Linked DNA regions of Homo sapiens. The protein of the gene in region 2 interacts with the protein of the main gene of each other region in a pairwise test. Each region holds a gene or a part of one and is shown on either strand. Other genes may lie near its edges.

Region 1 (8,928 bases), on a different chromosome or scaffold from region 2:
TGAGCCGAGATCACGCCACTACACTCCAGCCTGAGCAACAGAATGAGACTTTGTCTCAAAACAAAAACAAAAACAAAAACAGAATTGCAGTTACTATGTATGTGCCGAGAGGTCCTCAGGCACTGCAGTGAAATCACATGTTAGTGTGGCATATCTTTTTTTTTGAGATGGAGTTTTGCTCTTGTTGCCCAGGCTAGAGCACAGTGGTGCAATCGCGGCTCACCGCAACCTCCACCTCCCAGGTTCAAGGGATTCTCCTGCCTCAGCCTCCCGAGTAGCTGGGAGTACAGGCATGCGCCACCACGCCCGGCTAATTTTTGTGTTTTTAGTAGAGACAGGGTTTCTCCATGTTGGTCAGGCTGGTCTTGAACTTTCGACCTCAGGTGATCCGCCCGCCTTGGCCTCCGAAAGTGCTGGGATTACAGGTGTGAGCCACTGCACCTGGCCTAGTGTGGCACATTCTAAGTTTGGAGAAAAATGTCCAAGTAGTTCCGTTTGAACATTAGATCGTTTTACTACATTCCTTTCAATGCCACCACATCTTTGAGAAGCTTGGCTGTTAGTGGTTGCTGTGAAAAAAAGTAAGTACTGTGCAAAAATCAGTGTGGAACAGGAAATGACAGTGGCCACATCCAAATTTGGGAGGTTGTGCAGTGTATATACTAGAAATTTTGGTTGCTTAAAATAAAACATTTTAATTTTTAAATAAAAATATTTTTCACTATGTGTGTATTTAAAAAAAAAAAACGGCTACTAAGTTTTTAGGATGTAAACACTAAGTTCTTTGGATCTAAATACTTAATAAATGAAACCATTAGGTATTTTCGGCCTAGGGAAGCCATGAGAAAAACTACTGAGACACTTAAGGTACCATAAACCAACCAAGTTTTTGAAACCCTCTAGCCCAGGACAGTTACAGAATTTAAAAGTGGTATCACAATCTTTAATAGCCTTTTTTTCCTACGCTACCCAGTAATAGTAATAATGATAATTACTAAGAGATACTGAGCACTCATTACATGTTAAGCATTTTGCATAATAATTTTTAACCTCACAACAACTGTATGTGCCAAGTACTATTATCACTCTTGTTTTGCAGACAAGGAAACGCGTGTTTAGAATAGCTTCCCCAAGGTAACCCATGCCAGTAAGTTACATCACTTAAAGAATCTTCTGTTGCTTTAGAGAAAGCTTACTGTAAAGTCATATAATTCTCAAATCACTTGAAGATGACAACTGTGGAAGGAGGGAGGATATTAAGTCTTAATTTTCTCCAGCCCTCTTCAATGTCTAATGTTGACAGGGCACATTGGCTCATGCCTGTAATCTCAGCAACTCAAGAAGCTGAGGCGGGAGGATCGCTTGAGCCCAGGAGTTCAAGACCAGCCTGAGCAACACAGCAAGATCATATCTCTTAAAAAAACTAAAAAATTAGCCAGGTGTGATGGCACACTTGTAGTCACAGCTATTTGGGAGGCTGAGGCAGAAGAATCACTTGAGCCCAGGAGCGCAAGGCTGCAGTGAGCTATGATCATGCCACTGCACTCAAGCCTGGGCAACAGAGCAAGACCTCTGTGTGTGTGTACATACATATATATATGCATGCATAATTTTTTTCAAAATATTAACTTTTGCTAGTACATAAAAGAATACAAGATCACCTCCTACTAGCTAGGTTACAATGTAGCAAGTTTCATCAAAACATATCAGTTTCACTGGCAATAATAAATCTGTTCAGCATTATTCTTAGCAAACTAATACAAGAAGAGAAAACCAAAAACCACATGTTCTCTCTTATAAGTGGAAGCTAAATGATGAGAATTCATGGATACAAAGACAGGAACAACAGACAATGGGGCCTACTTGAGGGTGGAGGGTGGGAGGAGGAAGAGGATCAGAAAAAATAACTATTGGGTCCTAGGCTTAGTACCTGGGTGACGAGAAAAATCTGTACAACAACAACAACAAAAAAACAGTAAAAAGAAAATGTATATATACACAATGGAATACTATTCATCCTTTAAAAAGAATAAAATGCTAGGCTGGGCACGCTGGCTCACGCCTATAATCCCAGCACTTTGGGAGGCCAAGGCGGGTAGATCACTGGAGTTCAGGAGTCCGAGACCAGCCTGACCAACATGGTGAAACCCCGTCTCTACTAAAAATACAAAAATTAGCTGGGTGTGGCGGCGTATGTCTGTAATCCCAGCTACTTGAGAGTCTGAGGCAGGAGAATTGCTTGAACCCGGGAGGCAGAGGTTGCAGTGAGCTGAGATCGCGCCATTGCACTCCTTCCTGGATGACAGAGTGAGACTCCATCTCAAAAAATAAAATAAAATCCTGTCATTTGCAGCAAAATAAAAAAATCTGTTCAGGAGAAACATATTGTTGAGATAAAATAATCTTTGAAGAAGAAAAAAATTAGCTTTATGGTTTACTGGTTATACTTTACCAGTACTTTTTGTGTTTGTGTGTAACATTAAATCTCATTTAGATATAAGAAAGCTATCAGCTGAACGATGTGGGTCATATAAGGTGTCTTTTCATTTAGAAAGGGCTCTTGAGTAACATGCAGACCCAAGTTTGAATCCCAGCTTTTCTTTACTTGCTGTGCATCTGTTTTTTCACCTGTGAAAATGGCATTAGGCCGGGCGCAGTGGCTCACGCCTATAATCCCAGCACTTTGGGAGGCTGAGGCGGGCAGATGGATCACTTGAGGTCAGGAGTTCGAGACCAGCCTGGCCAACATGGTGAAACCCTGCCTTTACTAAAAATATAAAAATTAGCTGGGCATGGTAGTGGGCACCTGTAGTCCCAGCTACTTGGGAGGCTGAGGTAGGAGAATCGCTTGAACCCAGGAGGCAGAGGCTGCAATAAGCTGAGATGGCGCCACTGCACTCCGGCCTGGGTGACAGAGCCAGACTCTGTCTCAAACCAAAAAAAAAAAAAAAAGAAAATGACATTGATATAACCTTCACTGGGTTGTCAAGATTAAACAAGGTAATTTATGTAAAGAGCTCCCAGCATAAAACCTAATATAGAGATATTCTCCTTTCTTCCTTTCCTTTTCAGGTGGCAGGGTTAGAATCATTTGATTCTTTTTTTTTTTTTTCTTTCAGTAGTGGTTCTCACTAAGCCAAGTCTGCCATCTATGTAGGGTAACTTTAGTATATACCAGTCATGTATCTATGGCTTGGCTTGCAATTTAGTCACTCATAACTTAGATACCAGCTGCATGAATAACTTAATTTCAGTGATGCCCTATGAAACTATTATGGATGTGTTCACTTTTCCTTTTCATTAAACATCCTTTCCTGATGTTCCACCTTATATAAAGGTGTTCGCTATCTGATGGCATCTTTACTTTGACAGTGATCCCCACAAGAGATACAGAAAGCTAAAGATTCTTCACCTCTCAAGCATATACCTTCATTAGTAATGTGTGCTGCCAAGATCTCATTTCTACGCATACTCCCCAGCCCTCTCCCTCACCTGCTCTTCTTTCAGCAACTTGGTTTTTCCCCCATCACTAATAAGGTTATGAGAATGCTGCCTTTCTACTGGACAGTGAACTGGACAAATGCAGTAACTTGCTCTGATTACTTTTGTGACTGCACAGTGATCTATTCCAATCAGTTACTTCAAAAGAAATTGGACAAGACAAAAAGGAACATTTTAAACATGACCTTACCATTCCAACATGCCGATCAACATTAAAAAGTCTTTTGTTGGAACCTTCTTCATAAAGTTTAGAAAGGACTAATTTTTCTACCCCAAAGACAACACCATCTTTGCATCTGATTCCAATAGCTGTACTGAAACAAGGAGAAGAAAATCAGTTTTTTAACTGAAAATAAAAGAAACTTCATAAACTTAAGTTTAACAAAAAAACAAAATAAGTAACATTTAAGGCATGCCAAATACCTTAAAACATTTGAAAACCAGGAAGAGAAAACACACTAAAGTGTAATAAATACATTAAATCCATATAAATATCATGTGACCCTCCCTCCAGAATCTAGTACATCATTTGACTAAAAATATATTAATATGTAAGTATAAAAATGATGCTAACGAAACACAATATGGCTCAGTGTCTGGCTTATGATAATCATGTTATAAACAAATGTTGACATAAATTCATGTCCATTAAAAATGGTACATAACAGACATAAAAGGTTAGATACAAACTAAAAAGTTAACAGTGACTGCTCTGGGTAGAAGGATTATGATTTATTCTTCCTTTTGCTCATCTCTTTCTTCCAATTTTTCCATAATAAACATATTGCTTCTAATACGTATATAAAAATAAAATATATGTTCTGCTACAACTGTTTAAAATAAAAAGATCTTAAAATAACCTCTTAAGACCAGGCATGGTGGCTCACACCTGTAATCTCAGCACTTTGGGATGCTGAGGCAGGAGGATCTTTTAAGCCCAGGAGTCCAAGACGAGCCTGGGCAACATGGCGAAACCTGGCTTAGCCAGGCATGGTGGTACACGCCTGTAGTCCCAGCTACCTGGGAGGCTGAGGTGAGAGATTGCTTGAGCCCAGTTAGGTGGTGGCTGCAGTGAGCCAAGATTGCACCACTGCACACCAGTCTGTGCAACAGAGTGAGACCCTGTCTCAAACACACACACACACAACCTCAAGTAAAATGTGGAGAAATTACTTGTTGCCATTTCAAGATGAAAATGTGTTACACTTTATTCTTCTATTCCTTTTTGATAAAGGTAGTTCTGATCGGAAACAATAGAGACAAAATAAGCAATGCTTGATTGTACAGTTTTCTGGTAAAATTATCTCAACTTTCTCTTTCTTCTTTTTTTTAATTTTAAAGAAATGGAGTCTTGCCATGCTGCCCAAGATTGAATTGAAGTCTGAGGCTCAAGTAATCCTCTCACCTCAGCCTCAGTAGCTGGGACTACCGGCACAACTTCTCTGTTTTGGATAATAGCATCACCAAGCTCTACATCCTCCATGTTGAGCTTCTATTTACTATTAATTTTTTTCTTCAAAATTTCCTTCATGTCCACTTCTTTACAATAATTATACCAGCATTGGGATCCTTATAATTTCAGGCCTAGATTACTACACCATCTTTTCTACTTCTCTAATCCGTTTAATCTAAGACCAGCCTAATTCCTAGCTGTGTTTCATTTTGCCATAGTCAGAATCTAAAAAGGGATCCACAATCTAAAAAGCAGGGGAATTGTGTTATTCACAGGCCTCTTAAAATCTGATGAAACTATGGCATTTCCTCCCAGAAAAATGAACAACAGATGCACACAACAAATTTTCTAAGAATTTCTGACACTCCTTCCCCAACACTTTAGGTGTCTTCCATGGCTCCCCTTGCAAGTTTAAACTCCTAAGGGTCTGGCAGAACCCCCTGAGCATATTCAATTTCCTGTTATAAATTCTGTACTCTACTGGTTACCTCACTGTCAACCTTCAAAAACCTCATGTTCATTTTTGATTCCATGTCTTTGAGGTTATCCTGGATGCTAGAATACATTTCCTCTTCACTACTGCCTATTTAAATGAATTTCCCCAAAAGGTTTGCAAACTTAGTTGAACTCAAGCAGTACAGGTCAGAATGTAACCTCAGGACTTTGGAAGGCCCAAGTGAAAGGCTTGCCTGAGGCCAGGAGTTCAAGACCAGCCAGGCCAACATTTTGAAACTCTGTCCCTATTTTTTTTTTTTTTTTGGAGATGGAGTCTCGCTCTGTTGCCCCAGCTGGAGTACAGTGGCGTGATCTTGGCTCACTGCAACCTCCATCTCCCGGGTTCAAGTGATTCTCCTGTCTCAACCTCCCAAGTAGCTGGGATTACAGGCGCGCACTGCCATGCCCGGCTAATTTTTTGTATTTTCAGTAGAGACGGGATTTCACCATGTTGCCCAGGCTGGTCTCGAACTCCTGAGCTCAAGCAATACACCTGCCTCAGCCTCCCAAAGTGCTAGGATTACAGGCGTGGCTCACGCCCAGCAGGAAGCCTGTCTTAATTATCTCAACTCAACATCTTCCACACTGTTTAAAACATTCTTGAAAATCTGGAAATCTCTGAAATCCTTTCAGGCAGTCTTCGAGGTCAAAATTATTTTCATAAGAATTCAAAGACTTCGGCTGGGTGCGGTGGCTCACACCTATAATACCAGCACTTTGGGAAGCCTAAGCAGGCGGATCACTTGGGCTCAGGAGTTTGAGACCAGCCTGGGCCACATGGTGAAACCCTGTCTCTACAAAAAATTTGCCAGGCGTGGTGGCACATGCCTGTAGTCCCAACTACCTTGTGGGGCTGAGGGAGGAGAATAGCTCGAGACCAGGAGGTCGAGTCTGCAGTAAGCTGTAATCACACCACTGCACTCCAGCCTGGGTGACAAAGCGAGATCCTATGTCCTGCCCCCAAAAAAAGTTTTTTTTAAAAAAAAGGAATAATAAGCCAGGCGCAGTGACTCACACCTGTAATCCCATCACTTTGGGAGGCCAAGGCAGGAGGATTACTTGAGCCCAAAAGTTCAAGACCAGCCGAGGCAACATAGTGAGTGAGACCATGCCTCTTTTTTAAAATAAATAAACATTTTTTTTTAAAATAAGAAACTAGCATTTGTTCACTTTGGGTGTAGTATCAAAGGACAGGTTAATACATCTTTAAAAAGAAGAACTTTTAGGCCGGGCGCCGTGGCTCATGCCTGTAATCCCAGCACTTTGGGAGGCTGAGGCAGGCGGATCACCTGAGGTCAGGAGTTCGAGACCAGCCTGACCAACATGGAGAAACCCTGTCTCTACTAAAAATACAAAATTAGCGGGCCATGGTGGTGCATGTCTGTAATCCCAGCTACTTGGGAGGCTGAGAGAATTGCTTGAACCTGGGAGGCAGAGGTTGCGGTGAGCCAACATTGTGCCATTGCACTCCAGCCTGGGCAACAAGAGTGAAACTACGTCTCATTTTTAAAATCCTAGCTTTTTCTGAGACAGAGTCTCTGTTGCTTAGGCTGGAGTGCAGTGGTGCAATCTTGGCTCACTGCAACGTCCACCTGCCAGGTTCAAGTGATTCTCCTGCCTCAGCCTCCCAAGTAGCTGAAACTACGACGTGTGCCATCACACCCGGCTAATTTTTGTATTTTGTTATTTTTTAGTAGAGACAGGGTTTTACCATGTTGGCCAGGCTGGTCTCAAACTCCTGACCTCAGGTGATCCGCCCGCCTCAGCCTCCCAAAGTGCTGGGATTACAGGCGTGAGCCACCACGCCCGGCTGCATTTTTTCTTCATTCAGGAAAAAACACATTCGTTTTTAAGGTTTCAATTTTTTAAAGATATTTCCTCATATTTGCATAAATCTGACTTTTTAAAATCGTATTTAGGCTGGCCACAGTGACTCACGCCTATAATCCCAGCTCTTTGTAATCAACGAGAAATATAGGACTGGGGCTACTCTCTGGGAGTCCGAGGTGAGCGGATCACTTGAGGCCAGGGGTTTGAGACCAGCCTGGCCAACGTGGCAAAACCCCGTCTCTACTAAAAATGCAAAAATTATCCGGGCATGGTGGCACATGCCTGTAATCCCAGCTACTGGGGAGGCTGAGGCAAGAGAATCACTTGAACCCAGGAGGCGGAGGTTGCAGTGAGCCAAGATCGTGCCACTGCACTCTAGCCTAGGTGACAGAGTGAGACTCAGGTCTCAAAACAGAAACAGACATAGAAAAAATCTTTGCTGAATCGAACATGTGACTAATTGCATAAGACATTTAAAACACAAGATGTATGAGAAATAAAAAATAACAAGGTCACAAACCTAATGGCTGAGGAAGCCTATGATACAAATCAAGAATTTGAAAATGGAAAACAAAAAGATGATAATGAATGTGATTTATACACTCTGCAACATGGAAAATCTAAGTGGATAATCCTGGAATCAACGAGAAATATAGGACTGGGGCTCATGGAAAGCATCTGGCCTAGAAAGAGATCTGGAAATGAATAAATTGAGATTTGGGGACATATACTAATTTGTACCAAAGTAACATAACAAAGCCTAATCGCCAAAAATATATAAAATAAAAGGAGACATGTAATACCTGGTTAAATGTTTCTTACCTACTATTTTCCACAGCCTTCATAGCATATTCAACTTGAAAAACTCTTCCGTCAGGAGAGAATGTAGAGGCTGACAGGTCATACTTAAGGAGAAAAGGGCAACAGTAAGCTTGTATCTTTGGCAGTAATGACCATACAGTTTCTTCCCCTCTAAATGGCTGAAACATCAGGAACCTGTTATATCCCAACAAAGACCTTGCTTTCAAGAGAGGAAAGGGAAACTTGTCAGAGCAGCAACAGTAGCTAAGATAAAGCTATATACCTTCGATTTCAGCTATTGAAGAGTAATGGATACAGGTCCCAGGTGAAGTCAGAACACTTTTCACCCAGACTACAAAACTCATTTTTGAAAAAGATTAATATGGGGCAGTAGAACCAGCACTGGAGTTCGAACATTTAAATTTGTAACGATAACTCTGCCATTAACAAACTAAAAGACTTCAAACAAATCATTCGGCATTCACCAAGCAGTTAATGAGTATCTATTATGTTACTATACGGAATACAAAGGTATACTCATTCATTAAGTCCTTCAGTTTCACATCAGACATGAATCTAGGTGCTAGAGGTACAGCAGTAAATCAGAAAAGGCACTAAGATGAAAATAAAAGAGTAAAGCAATGAACTACTACAGACTACATCATCAGGGAAGGCCTTCTGGGCAGTTATATTTAGGCTGAGTCAAACCTAAATGACAAGGAGCTAGCCATTTAAGATATGAAGGAAAAGTCTTCTTGACATTTGGCACAAAGATCTTAGGGTAGAAATAAGGCTAGCACAGTCAAGAAACAGAAATAAGGTCACTGTGTCCCAAGCACTGTAAGCAG
Region 2 (8,882 bases):
TCGCACCACTACACTCCAGCCTGGCGACACAGCAAGACTCAGTCTCTCAAAAAAAAAAAAAAAAAGATATTGAGGGCATCCTGGACAAAGCAGTATGTACCGTGGGAGACAGAAAAGTAGTAAGACACATGGTTCCCCAAGCTCCTTTATGCCTAAAAAGTTCTGACTTTGCAGTTGAGTATTAAGCTCAACAACTCGAGGTGAAAGTCACCTTCACTGAGGGGAGAAGGTGAGTCTTCCTAGCTGACTATGGAGATGTGGGGCCTGATCTAAATAAAAAGGGTCATTCTCTTCTGTGGAGAACTACACCTCTCCTTTGATTCTATTTTGATTATAGCTATAAATAGTCCTTAGGGCCCAGTGAACTAACTAGCCCTCCACAAAAACAGAAATGGAGATATAAAGAATTTGTGCTCTTCCCATCTTCTAAGTATGCTTGTGTTCTTGGGATATCACTCCACTAGGGGCATTTCACAAGGATGTAAAGACCCAGACTAGTCTAATATGAGACACAATGGAATGGGTGGGAGTAGACAGGAACAGTAGGGGAAAGAACAAGTATTAGTAGTACTGTGAAAGGAGACAGACAATTCCAACGCCTCAAAATTCTCAGCAGTCTAAAAAACAGGAAATTAAGACCCTCAAAAGTAGTAACATGCTGGCCTTGAAGCTTTTTGGTTGTGAAGGCCACAGCCTCGTAGGTTTAGGAGGTCTTTGCCCGAATTTCCTCCAAAGGGGATGTTTATTTGGTTAGTAGGAAATGTTTATAAAGTGAACTTTTTTGAGACAGCTGCACAGGTATATAAAGATAAAACTTGCATTAAAAACTTTTTTTTCCAAAAAAGCAATTTTGAGGTTAATTTCAATTCCACTGTGGATAGTCATTAATTCTCAAAACCTCCCAGCAAATAAAACCTTTTTATCCTAGCACTTCATTCCATATCCATGCAATATCCCTTTCCCAGCAGAGTTCTTTAAAAGTAAATACAAGAGCCTTCATTTTAAGACAGCTCTCCATAGACCAAACCAGAAAAGATGTTGAAGGGAAGGTTAAACTCTTAAATTCAAGAAAATAAAAAGGGGTAAATTGTAAACACACTTTCAGAACCACTTTTTGTCATTTTTTTTTTTTCAGAAAGTACCTATAAAAAGTAAAAGACCACATTTTAGGGGGAGAAATATAAAATTATGGTGAAAGGCCACGCTGTGAAAAGTACTTGGTTTACAGTACCTGCGGTGTTCTCCACTGGGGCCTGTCCAGAGAGGCAGATGACACTCACCTCATCAACTGGCAATGAACAGCAGCTGAAAAGGGTGGCTGCTGGACTGGGGACTGTTCTTACTCCTAAGTGAAACCCTACCTTCCTGATACTCATGGAGAACACTGCAGTTACGAACAGACCAAAACAAGGAGCTGCAAATGCAGAACTCACTGGGCAAAAACTGACAGATGATACCAAAGTCGTGAAAGTATCTCATCTCAAAAAAGATAACTACAATCTCAAACTTTCAAAAAATGCAGATCTTGCTCAGAATAAATCGTAACAATCTCAAAGTGCATTTGGATGCAGAACGTATATTTACCTATATAAGCTCTTTCTTGTTCTCGAGTAAGTCCAGGGGGAATAACTGTAGGCATTCCTGGAATCACTGTCTTCTGTTCCATTGTGTCTTGGTTCCAGCGGCTCCTCTTCCGCTTCTTACTTGGGAAGTCTAAAAGGCAGAGACAAAATCCATCCGATGTAAATACAAGTAGTTATCAACAGACAGCTAAGGGTATTTAAGGTACTACACAGAAACTCAGCAGACTGTGAAGCTGAGAGCTTAACCTAAAACTTAAACATTAAAAAAACAGAAAACAAACCTCAGAGATCAGAGATTTAAAGCTTATGGCCACTACAAGGGTATGTGGTCCTTGGTCAGGCAAGTTAACATTTCACCTTCTTTTGTCTAGAAAAACTGTCAGATATATAAACGTGGTAATCTTAATGCATATGGCTGCAGAGAGTGTTAGATAGATACTACATCAACCATGAGTGCTCTGAAATCCCCAGGGGAGACAAAAATACACTGAAGAATCATAGATTTGTAAAGCAGTCCTGATGGGACTGGGGGCTCCACCCACCTCCACTCCCCTCACCAGTCACTTTTGTACGAGAGGCCGGACCACAACTAAACCTAGTTACACCCTACCAAGTGGGAAAAGCCCAATTCTTCAACAAGATCACCTTTGTCTTCATAAGTTTAGCCAAGATCAGCATTCAGTTTTCCTGGCCAGTTGGACACTGAGGGTCTGAACTCTTAAAAGGATCTATCAAAAATTCAACAACCTATACAATAGCAGCCAAGTTCTCCTTTCCCCGTACATAGGCAGAAACTCCCTACATTTGCCACAAAAGAGTCCTTCTATTTCCCAAGGGGTACAGGATCAGAGGGAAAAGCTTTTTAAAACAAAGCGACAGGGCAGCCGATCAGACTGAGATCTAAACATACTGAACAGATTTAAAAAAAAAAACAAACTAAAATTCTCTCCCCAAAAGAGACCAAGAAAGATCAGACCCAACCATCATCTGAAGCATGCCAACCTCTCCCGGATGAAAACCCTGCCTTGCTGTAGAAGCAGAGGAGCTATCCTTGGTACGGTTCCCATTCTGGTTCCTCAAGACCAGAAGGGAGTCGCTGCACGTCATCAGGTGAGGCTTTCACGCCCTGCTGGCATTCACAGCTAGCACCCCGTCCAGCGCTGAACACCCGCCACCCCTGTTCCCGACACCAGCGGACTGGACAGCAATAGTGGGCCCCCAGTCTATACAGTTGCGCCGCACAGCCCGGCCACCTCACTGCGTCTGCGCACAGAGCGCCTCCCGCCCGCCCAGCCCTCCCCCCACAGCGCGCGTGCGCACTCGAGGCCCTAGAACCAGGCCGCGCGCGCCCAGGGGCGCCTCCGCCCGGGCCTCCCCGTGCGCGCACGCGCGCCCCTGCCGCGTGCAGCCGCCGTCGCCGCCGCCGCGCGCCCCTCAGGCGGCCGGGCCCGTCCGCGCGACGCCTCTCGCGCTCTCTCGGCCCGACTCACCTCCTCCGCCGCCGGCCGGGCCCGGCTGCTGGTCCTTACGCGGCGGCTGGGGTGGCGGCGGCTGCGGCGGCGACACGCGCTGGTAGAGCGGCGGCGGAGGGGGCGGCTGCGGCGGCGGGTACGAGGCGCCGGGGGACGGTGGCGGTGGAGGCGGCGGCGGCTGCTGGGGAGGCGGAGGGGGCGGCGGCGGAGGCGGCGGAGGCAGCGCCGCGAAGGGGAAGGCCGCGGTCAGGGCCCCCATCGAGCCCACGGGCGGGGGCGGCGGCGGCCCGGGAGCCAGCAGCCCCGCCCCAGGCCCGGGTGCAGGCGGAGGGCCCGGCTCGAAGCCTCCTTTGGGCCCGGGGAGCGGGGGCAGCCCGGGGGGGCCCAGCTTACCCAACGGCGTGGCGTTCGCTCCGGTCGCCATGGCGCCCCCGGGGACAGGCACCGGCACCTGCTTTTCCTCTGCGGCGGCTTCTCCTTCGCAAGCCTCCCGGGGGGAGGGGACCCGAATGCGCTGCCGGAGCGCGCGGAGCCCGTCCTCTCACGCGGCGGGCGGCGGCGGCGCGAGACGCACAAAGAGGGAGGAGAGAGGGCACCGCGGGGGCGGGCCGGGGGCGGCGGGGCCGGGGCCTGGATTGGGCCGGGCCGAGGCGAAGGGTCGAAATCGGCGGCCTCCGATTGGCGGAGCCTCAGTCCTTCTTGATGCGCGCTGGGATTGGCCGAACCGTTAGGCCAAGCGAGGAAATGGCGGCGGAGTTCGGTGGGCTGGGAGGTGTCGCAGCGCGCACTTCATTTGTTACTGCGTGAACTGAGCTCCGAGTCCAGAAAGGAGGGGATGGGGTGGGGCGAACTCTATGACGGAGCGACGGCGAGCTCTCTCATTGGCTGCGGTGGTGGACTCAATCAATCTCGCCTGCGTTGTAGTGTCGCGGGATTGGCTGTCGCTGGTTCCAGCCTTTTTCTACTCCCCTCCCCCAGGGGGCAGTTTCTCCGGGATTAAGCGAGAGTCGCGGCGGAAAAGGCCCAGCCGGAACGAGATTTACGGCGGGGGAGTCCTGGAGCAGGAAGTGCGCATGCGTAGATGGAGCAAAACCGCCTCTCCACCCGTCTCCCTTCACCATCGACCCTTGGGTCCAGCAAGGAAGCCCTAAGTGACGTCAACCTTTGTTCCCATGGTAACGCAGAACCTTGGGGCGGGAGCAGGGGAGGGGCTGGCGCGCGCCGGAAAACCGGCTCAGTTGACGCTGCAGGTAAAAAGACTTCCTGTTTTTTTGGAAAAAAAAAAAAAAAAAAAAAGTGACCCAAAAAGCTACGAATAGAGACGACTTATCGAAGGATTTAAAACAGTATTTGAACTGATGCAACAACATATTAGATGAAAGGTAACAGAAGGTTGTCAGTTCAAAAATTACAAATACACACTTCTATTGGAATCTCCACGGAGTTCAGAGGATTTAATTAAATGATCTTAAAATCGTATAAAACAATAACTACGGCCGGGCGCGGTGGCTCACGCCTGTAATCCCAGCACTTTGACAGGCCGAGGCGGGCGAATCACAAGGTCAGAAGGTCGAGACCAGCCTGACCAACATGGCGAAACCCCGTCTCTACGAAAAATACAAAAATTAGTTGGGTGTAGTGGTGCACTCCTGCAATCCCAGCTTCCCAGGAGGATGAGGCAAGAGAATCGCTTGAACCCGGGAGGCGGAGGTTGCAGTGAGCCGAGATGGGGCCACTGCACTTCAGCCTGGGTGACAGAGCGAGACTGTCAAAAATAAAAATAAAAATAACTACTACAGTACTGGGAAAACTTTACAAGACGGAGCAGGAGCTTGCCTTTCCAGATGACAAACATAGTATATAAAACACAATAGGCCAGTGCCAAGGCACTGGGAGGCCAAGGCGGGGGGATCACCTGAGGTCAGGAGTTCGAGACCAACCTGACCAACACGGTGAAACCCCCGTCTCTACTAAAAGTACAAAAATTAGCCGAGCGTGGTGGCAGACGCCTATAATCCCAGCTTCTCAGGAGGCTGAGGCAGGAGAATTGCTTGAACCCAGGAGGCGGAGGTGTAGTGAGCTGAGATCGCACCACTGTACTCCAGCCTGGGCAACAGCATGAGACTCCGTCTCAAAAACAAAAAACCACAATAATAAAACAATATGATATTGTTGGTAGGAAAGACACATTAGTGCAACAGAATCCGGAAATACCACAAATGTAGTATTTTATTTCAATCAGGAAAAGATGATTTCGTTGATAAATGGCGTAGAATCTTAAATTTAAACAACAAAACATTTAGAATATAATTTAGGAGACTATAAGGGTATTCTAGGGGTTGAGAGACTGCAAAGACAGGAACCTCAAACTGTAAAAAGATATACTTGATTACCCCGAAAATTAACACTGATAAAAGTCAAGAGACAATGATAGATGAGGAAAAAATATTTGCCATACATGATAAAGAGCCAATACCTGTAATATACAAATACATCTTAAAAACTAATTAGAAAAAAGGCAAAAACAATAGAAAATGAGCAAAAAATAGGAATGGACATGTCTCAGAAGAACAAATCCAAATAGCCAAGAAATATGAAAGGGTGCACAACCCCTCTGCTGTGGTTTTTTAAAATAAATAGAAAAGATGTTGGAACCCCCACAACACTTGAAACCTGGAGAGAGAGGTGACTGTGATCTCAGCCATGTATGGTTATAATTTTTTCTGAGATAATAAATTAGACCTGCTTGTTTTTCTTGTTCTGTACAATTATTGGAGAGAATTAAACATGGGACAAAAACCTGCTGCCTTCTTAATGACCCTTCTTATAGATAACTTCCCTTTTGTTGTCCTGCTTTACTTAGACCAGATGACAGCAAACCCATGACTATTACACCCTCTGTAAAAAATGTTAAATGTATGCCTCCCAAAAAGAAACACTGCTTACAACCAAATTATTTATTATTATTATTTCAATTTGAGACAGAGTCTGGCTCTGTCGCCCAGGCTGGAGTGCAATGGCACAATCTCGGCTCACTGCACCCTCTGCCTCCCAGATTCAAGCGATTCTCCCACCTCAGCCTCCTGAGTAGCCGGGATTACAGCCACCTGCCATCATGCCCAGCTAATTGTTACATTTTTGTAAAGATGGAATTTCACCATGTTGGCCAGGCTGGTCTTGAACTCCTGACCTCAGGTGATCTGCCCGCCTCGGCCTCCCAAAGTGCTGGGATTACAGGAGTGGACCACTGCACTCGGCCTATAACCAAATTACTGTAAGTACGCACTGACCATATATGAAGAATGTAATCCTAAAACTCCTCTGCCTTTGTGTGTGTAAATGAAACCTTAACTTCTCTACTTCGAAACACTGACTCCATTCATTTGGAGTCGGTGTTTCCAGGTAGTCCACCCTCATGTTTTGTGCTTGAATAAACTATTGAAATTAGATTCTGACCCTTTTGATTACTTTAGGTGGACAGGTTTGAATGTGTCCCCCAAAGCTCATGTGTTAGAAACTTAATCTCCATCCAGGCGCGGTGGCTCCAACACTTTGGGAGGCCGAGGTGGGTGGATCACCTGAGGTCAGGAGTTCGAGACCAGCCTGGCCAACATGAATCTCCTGCCTCAGCCTCCCAAGTAGTTGGGATTACAGGTGCCGCCACTATGCCTGGCTAATTTTTTGTATTTTTAATAGAGACAGGGTTTCACCATGTTGGCCAGGCTGGTCTCGAACTCCTTACCTCAGGTGATCCACCCACCTTGGCCTCCCAAACTGCTGGGATTATAGGCGTGAGCCACCGTGCCCAGCCAGAAATCTCTATTCTTTATAAATTACCCAGACTGGGTGTGGTGGCTAATGCCTGTAATCCCAGCACTTTGAGAGTCTGAGGTGGGAGGATCTCTTGAGCTCAGAAGTTTGTGACCAGCCTGGGCAACATCTACTAAAAAAATAAAAAATAAAAAAAAAATGCTGGTCATGGTGGTCCATGTCTATAGTCCCAGCTACACAAGAGGCTGAAGCAGGAGGATTACTTGAGCCCAGGAGATCAAGGCTGCAATGAGCTATGATCACGCCACTGCAATCCAGCCTGAGCAACAGAGCAAGACCCTGTCTCAAATAAATAAATTACCCAGTCTCAGGGATTCTGTTATAGCAGTACCACCTTAGACTGTGCTGAGTTTGTGCGACTGAGACTAGCTAATTTATTTACCAGTATTTAGACACTGCCTATAAGGGAAATACAAATTAAGGTGATAATGAGGAATCTCAAAATAAATGAAAATAGCAGAACATAAATGTGCTAACACCTACTATCGTTAATCTTTTAGAAAGCATTCTGTTGTCTATTAAAATTGTTCCCCCTTTCAAAAAATAAAAAAATATGCACCTGTACTCACAGCTACTTGTGAAGCTGAGGTGGGAGGATCCCTTGAGCCCAGGAGGTAAAGGCAGAAGTGAGCTGTGATTGGGCGACAGAGTGAGACTCTGTCTCAAAAGAAAGAAAACATAAACCCTTTCGATCCAATATCCCACTCCTGGGAATCTGCCCCCAAACAAGCCATGTGATTATATAATGTTTTCAAAGTCTTCTGCATTTACTGCAGCATTGTTTGTAGTGGTAAAAATGGGCAAACAGAGTGAATTTCCATCAATATATGAACGACTGAATTGGAAAACCCATAACCTAGAATATTAGGCAGCTTTGAAAAGCTGTTAATTCATACCAACCAACCTAAAGTAACTACTGTTCTGTGTTAACAAAGAAATACATATGACATGGCTTTGTTTTTGTAACACAAACCCCATACAGATGTGTGCATGTTTGCATATGATTATCTGAGCATAACAAAGGCTACAGAAGGATACACAGCACATGCTCTATTGCAGAGTGAAATGGGCGGCTGGAAGTTGCCCAACACATCTTAAACATCCAACTTTTTTTTTTTTTTTTCTTATGAGATGGAGTCTTGCTCTGTCACCCAGACCAGAGTGCAGTGGCATGATCTTGGCTCACTGCAACCTCCTCCTCCTGGGTTCAAGCGATTCTCGTGACTCAGCCTCCAGAGTAGCTCGGATTACAGGCATGCGCCACCATGCTTGGCTAATTTTTGTATTTTTAGTAGAGACGGGGTTTCACCATGTTGGCCAGGCTGGTCTCAAACTCCTGATCTCAAGTGATTCGCCCGCCTCAGCCTCCCAAAGTGCTGGGATTACAGGCGTGAGCCACCAAACCCAGCCTAAAAATCCAAAGTTAAAAAAAAAATGCTTCATACGCTTAACAAATGTATTACATGATTCCATTTTTGCAACATTATATAACTATAGGCATTGAGAAATGCACCAAGGGCTGGGTGCAGTGGCTCACACTTGTAATCTCAGCACTTTGGGAAGGCAAGGCAGGAGGATTGCTTGAGGCCAGGAGTTCGAAACCAGCCTGGGCAACATAGGGAGAATGTCTCTACAGAAACAAAAATAATAATAATCAGCTGAGCGTGATGTGTGCCTGTAGTTCCAGCTACTTGGGAGGCTGAGGCAGGAGGATTGTTTGACCCCAAAGAGTTTGAGGCTGCAATAAGCTGTGATCACACCACTGCACTGAAGCCTGAGTGACAGAGGGAGACCCTGTCTCAAAAAAAAAAAAAAAAAAAAAAAAAAAAGGCTGGGTGCGGTGGCTCACACCTGTAATCCCAGCACTTTGGGAGGCCGAGGCAGGCAGATCATGAGGTCAGGAGATTGAGACCATCCTGGCTAACACGGTGAAACCCCATCTCTACTAAAAATACAAAAAAAAAAATAGCTGAGTGTGGTGGCAGGTGCCTGTAGT

Evidence for each region. Proteins that work in one complex are often made in the same cells at the same time.
Region 1: the proteins of SF1 (region 2) and PSMA3 interact in binary tests that used the Homo sapiens proteins (3 or more experiments, as listed by UniProt).

What each region holds. Positions count from the first base shown.
Region 1 is NC_000014.9:58,247,006-58,255,933, reverse strand, and holds part of PSMA3 (proteasome subunit alpha type-3), read right to left. Parts: intron 8,185-8,928; coding exon 8,102-8,184; intron 3,816-8,101; coding exon 3,692-3,815; intron 1-3,691. UniProt on the Homo sapiens protein: Component of the 20S core proteasome complex involved in the proteolytic degradation of most intracellular proteins. This complex plays numerous essential roles within the cell by associating with different regulatory particles.
Region 2 is NC_000011.10:64,774,914-64,783,795, forward strand, and holds the start of SF1 (splicing factor 1), read right to left. Parts: upstream 3,630-8,882; 5' UTR 3,480-3,629; coding exon 3,449-3,479; coding exon of another isoform or gene 3,074-3,448; intron 2,849-3,073; exon of another isoform or gene 2,586-2,848; intron 1,714-2,585; coding exon 1,585-1,713; intron 1-1,584. UniProt on the Homo sapiens protein: Necessary for the ATP-dependent first step of spliceosome assembly. Binds to the intron branch point sequence (BPS) 5'-UACUAAC-3' of the pre-mRNA. May act as transcription repressor.